Regions from separate parts of the Homo sapiens genome. Here region 1 is linked to region 2. The links come from fine-mapping of genetic effects on gene expression. A gene starts in region 2. The other region holds a variant in brackets. All regions are shown on one strand. Distances are between the middles of the regions. Region 1 overlaps SH3BP4 (SH3 domain binding protein 4). Region 2 holds the start of SH3BP4 (SH3 domain binding protein 4).

Region 1 (2,897 bases), 95 kb after region 2:
AGACCAGCCTGAGCAACATAGTGAGGCTTCATCTCTCCAATTTTTTTTTTTTAAATCAGCCAGGTGTGTTGGTGTGCACCTGTAGTCCCAGCTACTTGGGAGGCTGAGGTGGGAGGATCACTTGAGCCCAGGAGGTCGAGGCTACACTGAGCTATGATCGCAGCACTGCACTCCAGCCTGGACAACAGAGTGAAACCCTGTCTTGAAAATAAAGGAAGAGAAGAAAAGAAACAAGTTTGTTTATGTTCTTGTGCACTTGTTTCTCATTATTACTCTAACTGAACATAGGTCCCATGAGAGGAAGGGCCCCGGCACATAAGAATCACTGAGGTACTAGATGGATAAGTGATTGAATGAATGAATGATGGATGAATGAATGAATGATGAATGAATGAATGAATGAATGCAGGCCTTGGGCTGGGCTAAGAATCCAAGCGGGAGGCATTCTCACGTGGCCATACCATGCTTCTGTTCTGTGGTTCCATTTCCTCTTTCCATTCTTTTTGTGCCTGTTTTTGATAGAGTCCGTGTGTGAGGCATCCCCGTACCTCTGCCTGCCCCTTCCCAGCAGCATGGCTGTGGCTGCACTCAGAGCACCCCTCTGTCCTGGCCACTTCTCTCCCACCAGAGCCTCTGTCCGTGATGGTGTCAGCTGAAGAATGACAAGGTTTGTTCATTTGGAAAGGAGAGCCTCATTCCTCATAAAGGGTTGCAGCCTGTGGGTGGCTATTCTGACAGGTTGGGAAGCAGAGCCTCCTGCCAGAAGCCAAAAACAGACACTTCAAGGGAGGGGCAAAGGCAACAAGAATTTATGGATATTGGTGGCCAAATATACATATTCAATAAGCCGTAGGGGGAGTCATGAGTATTTATGAAAGGAGAAATGTGCACATTCACATTTAAGCCTTGTGCTCCTTCAGGGGTCCCATGTACAAAAAATGGTGGCAGTGGCATGATTCAAGGGTAGGGTTTTCTTTCAGCCCCCTGATGCGTCAGAGGCGAAGCAGGGGACATGAAACCCTCGCTGTGCATCCTCTGTAGACTGGCCAGAAACACTGCGTGGTCGGTGGGCTCCCGTCAGGCAAAGAGGAGGGGCAGCGTCTGGCAGTGGTAGAGGCCTTTGAAAGGGAACCCAGCTTTTTAAGAATCAGAAAAGTCATTCAGCAGCGCCCTTTTGATGCAAGAGACTATTCCCAATTCTCGGGATACTGTCAGCACTCGGCACATGGTCTCTGTTATGGTGGGGAAGGAAGGGGAGTCAGCTGGAGATAGCCGTGGGCAGTGGCCATCAGCCATGGGAGCAGAAGCAGCCCACGGTGGCCTCAGGCCCAGGGAGAACTTCCTAAGGGGCCAGAGTGAGCTGTCACAACTGGTCCTGGATCCACCATAAGAACGAAGC[C/T]GTGGGGTGTGGTGACCTGGAGCCGTCGGTGATGGCTGTAGCAGGGGCGTTTTGGTCAAGTTGCGGGAGGTAGGGAAATAGGCGTGTCGGGCTCTGTAGAGAAGTTTCTATGAGAAAGGGAAGGAGTTGCTGTGGGATGCAAAGCAAGGGAGGGTGGTTGTTTTGGGAGTGGAGTGGGGGCCGGAATAAACCCAAAGAGACTTGAAAACTAACAGAAATAAGGAAGCTAGCAAGTGCATGGGGCGCATTGGGGCGGGAAAGACTGGTGTGGTGTGAAGGGACTCTCTGTGGATTGGGAGAAGACCCACTTTAACCTCCAGAAGAGGAGGAGTTGATGGACAGTGTGCATTGGATGGGGTCCTGAGGGATTCCTCCCAGGCAGCCCCAAAGCCAGAGCCTGTGGCTGTTAATGTGGGAGAGGGAAGGAGGATGGGCCCATTGTCCAGATGCCATGTGCAGAAGGCTTCCCCTCGAGTTTTGGGGCATGTTGGGAAGGAAGCAGGATGGAATAAACATGCAGCAAAAAAGCCTAAATTGTATTTCTTTGTACTTTATAAGAGTATTTTCCCCCGCCCCTTTTTTGAGAAAAGGTCTCGCTCTGTCTCCTAGGCGGGAGTGCAGTGGTGTGATCACAGCTCACTGCAGCCTCGAACTCCTGGGCTCAAGCAGTCCTCCCACCTCAGCCTCCCAAGTAGCTGGGACTACAAGCAGGTGCCACCACACCCAGCTAATTTTTTTTTTTTTTTGTCTGTAGTAGAGACAAGGTTTGATTGTGTTGCCCAGGCCGGTGTGGAACTCATTGAGCTCAAGCTATCCTCCCACCTCAGCCTACCAAAATGCTGGTATTATAGGGGTGAGCCACCATGGCTGGACAAGAATATCTCTTGAAGCAAGTTCCCAGACTCTGGCCGCCAGGCCCGCTATTCCTGTCAATGGCGTTTTGTTGGAACTCAGCCACACCCATTCCCATCTGCATCGTCTGTGGCTTTCAGGCTTCGTGTGTCCCACAAAGGCAAAAGTACTATCTGTCCCTTTATAAAGTTCAGTCACCCTGACTGAAATCATGGTGTACTCACTGTAACAAAATTCCAGTTGAAACCAGGGTAGTGCAGCAGTCCATCGAGTGTTTCCTGGTGTACCTGTGTGCCCATAAAAAGAGGAAGCTGCAAGGATCAAGTTCATAGAGCTAGAGCCTCCTGCTGTGAAATTTTTCTATTGCTAAGAATTGGTTGGCACCCAAAATTTGTCCTTTAAAAATATGCATCAGTTATGCCTTGTTGATGGTGTGGGTGGTTTGTAACAAACTAAACCAGGGCTGGGCTCAGTAAAAGTTGTGTAAGTGAGTGAGGGAGAGATGCCTTCATTCTTGGTGTTGGAAGTGCCGACCTCTCCTTTCATCTGGGATCCATGGAAATGGGACCTTGGCTGCCCCTGGATGGAGTCCAGGCGCTCTCCTTCCCAGGGGCCAGAGAACACCTGTGTTTCCCAGGACCTTGGG
Region 2 (2,897 bases):
GTCTCAAGCCACCTATAAAAACGGGGACAATAACAATATCTGCCTCGGGGTTAATGGTGAGGACTGACTGTGTGTGTCTCGCTCAGGACCAGGAGCAACAAATGTTGGCTTCTTCCCCGGCAAAGACCCGCGCTTTCTCCTGGGCTCCGGGTTCCCGGGGTGGGGGTGGGCGCAGTCCCGAGGGCCCCAGGCAGTGGCGCAGTGGTTAGACCCCAGCCTCTGGAGTCGGCCTCGGTTCAGATTCTGGTTCTACCCTTCTCCTCTGTGGCGAACCAACCCTCCGAGCTCTAGTTTACTCGTGTGAAATGGACTAGCCAAAATTGGGATTTTTTTTTTTTTTTAGGATTAGATGTGTCGGTCCATAGACGTTGCTGGCCACATAGTTAAGTGGTGCGTTCACTCACTGGGCATTGATGGAGCGCCTACTACGTGCCAGGCCTGTTTTACGCGCCGGGGGCCCAGAGGCGCCCAGGTCAGACAAAGTGTAAACGATTCCGACCAGAGCCCTTCAATCTGCATTCCGCTTCGCAGGAAACTCTCCTCCTTTTATGATTTTCAGCCGGACTGCCTTCCCTGTTGTTAGTTTGTAACTTTCGCTCCGGCCCCCGCAGCCTCGCGCCTGCCTTCCCTCCACTGTCCTCAGCCAAGGTGTAGTAAAGCGTCTCCGAACGCGGCGCGACCCTCGCCCACGCCCGCTCGCGGGGGGACCGCACCGCCCCAGGGGTCCTCGCTAGGGGTTCCCGGAGAAGGGGTGGGAGATGGGGGTGCGGGGGGGCACAGGAGCGCGGGCCAGCACCCAGACCTGCTCGGTACCGGGGACCCAGACCCGAGGATGCCGGGCGGCCAAGGCCCCGCTACCCTGGCCGGCTCCGGGCGGAGGAAGAAGAGGAGGCGCCCAGACTGGATACCCGCCTGGACCCGGAGCCGCGGCACCACCCCCAGCCCGCCCCACGCTCGCCAGCCTCAGACGGCCGCGCCCCGCCCCGCCCCTCTCCCGAAGCCCCGCCCCGGCGCGGGACCACCCCCTCCGCGGCCTCAGCTCCGGTCCTGGCCCCGCCCCCCGCGCCCCCGCCCCCGCCCCCGCCCCCGCCCCCGCCCAGGCGCGGGACCACCCTCCGCCCGCCGAGGCGGGGGCCCAGCGCGCCCGGCACTCTCGGCGGTCCGGGCCCCTCGCCACTACCGCCGCCGCCGCCGCCGTGAGTCCCGCGGAGCCGCGCGCGCCCCCGGCTGGGCCGAGCCGCTGGCCGACGAGCGGAGCCTCAGGAGCCGGCGGGGACGCCATGCGAGCCAGGTAGGCAGGCGGCGGCGGGGAGCGCCTCGGGCGGCAGGGCCCTGGGGGCCGGCGGGGGCGCGGGGTCGTGCTCGGGGGCTTTGCACTCCCTTGCGGGCGCAGATCGTGCCGCGGGCGCCGATCGTGCCACCGCCGCCTGAGTTCGGGGCTGCGCGGGTGCCTGGGCGTGGGGCGGCTTCGGGGAAGCCTCGCGCGCCCCTCGCCGCTCCCCCGGGCGCTCGGGTCTCCCTGGTGCTGGTGGGCAGGGACCCGGCCCGGGGTTCCGGGCGCCGAGCCGCAGCCCTCCGCGTGCGCTCGGGCCGCCCCCCAACCCCGGCTCTGGCCACTTCCCGGCGGGCGGCCCTGCGGGGTGGCCTCCCTGGGCAACCGGACGCGTCCTCGGGCGCAAATCGGGGGGCGCGCTCGGCTCACGGGGGCCGTGGGGGCCACGGGAGGGCGTGGAGGGGTCGGGGCGCCCCCCTCGAGCGGCGCTGGGGAGGAGGGAAGGACGCGCGGTCTCCGGTTAAACTTGTTGGTGACAATGCATATTTCAACTTCTTCGGAGATCCCTCCTGTGAGGATGAAATTGAAAACTCCGGTTTCTGGCTTGGCGATCGGGTGACCGAGCAGCCGCGAGGTGACAGCGCCGGCGGCCCGCGGGCGGGGACCGGCTGGGATAGAGGCGCGTTGTTCTCTGAGCGATGTTTACCGAGAAGCCCGCTCCGCGGCACGGGCGGGTGTCAGTTGGGACCCCAACCCTGGGTCCCGCGGCTCCTAGCCCGGGGCCTGCGGTGTAGACGGGGGTTGGGGACAGGCCCAGCTGGCCCTGACCGGGTGTCGGGCGCCCAGAGATGCCGCGCGGGAGGAGCCGCGGGAGAGCCGCCGGACTCAGCGAGCAGAGGGTCGTGGAGCCTGATGGATCGATGAGATCTGAAAAAGAACACTGTGCGAGATTGTATTCCTGCTTATTCTTTCCAAGTTAGTAGGCAGATTGGAACTATAGAATTTATCCGTGATAATAATAAAGTTCGCATAACTTTTGTTCTGATTACAGAAACAATGTATGCTCAGGACAGAAAGCTAGAGATAAAGAGAAATATAAACAGCAAACAGGAAACCATCCCCAATCCCACATTTTTTACCAGCCTTGTCACAGCCTGGCAGATTTGAACATTAAGTTAGAACTGGAGCCATTCTTGCCTAAACCAGAGAATCCCTGAATGCAGCCGCCCCTTCTCACCCTTGTGACCGTCTCTGAGCTCCAAAGTTTGGGTTTTTTCCTTGCTCCCTACCCGGGCAGAATCTCTGCTGGCCACGAGTCCCCTTCCCAGTGGGCTGGGGGCTTTCCTTGAGATCCGTGGCCCAGATGAAATGATGGGAGAGGCCTGGATCCTCACCGCCCTCTGTGGTTTTGGTTCCTTGCCTTGTAAAAATGAAGGTAATGATTCTCAATCTGCTTCTCAAGCCACCATAAAAATTAATGGGTGGTTTGCAGAGCGTTTTGACATCCGTGGATGGACAGCGGCTGTACTTTAAGGCGCTGGGGAACATTCTACTGTTCCTCATTGCAGTGGTCATGCAGTGTAATAGGCTGCCTCTCACCTGGCCGTCCTGCCCAGGAAACAGA

What was found. PIP is the estimated chance that this variant, and not a neighbour inherited with it, causes the effect.
Region 1: its variant is the best candidate, but not a certain one, in a credible set for the expression of SH3BP4 in whole blood (INTERVAL, PIP 0.58).

What each region holds. Positions count from the first base shown.
Region 1 is chr2:235,046,368-235,049,264 of GRCh38, forward strand. All of the region lies in intron 4 of SH3BP4 (SH3 domain binding protein 4), which reads left to right. Among named protein-coding and RNA genes, the nearest start is that of SH3BP4, 96 kb to the left of the region's middle. The variant C/T (reference allele first, on the strand shown) is at 1,400.
Region 2 is chr2:234,950,880-234,953,776 of GRCh38, forward strand. SH3BP4 (SH3 domain binding protein 4) reads left to right here and starts at 1,138. Exons shown (of 6, transcript NM_014521.3): 1 at 1,138-1,291. It overlaps LOC105373938 (a long non-coding RNA gene), which reads left to right. Exons shown (of 7, transcript XR_007088132.1): 6 at 1-472; 7 at 560-920. RefSeq lists an enhancer at 1,591-2,240.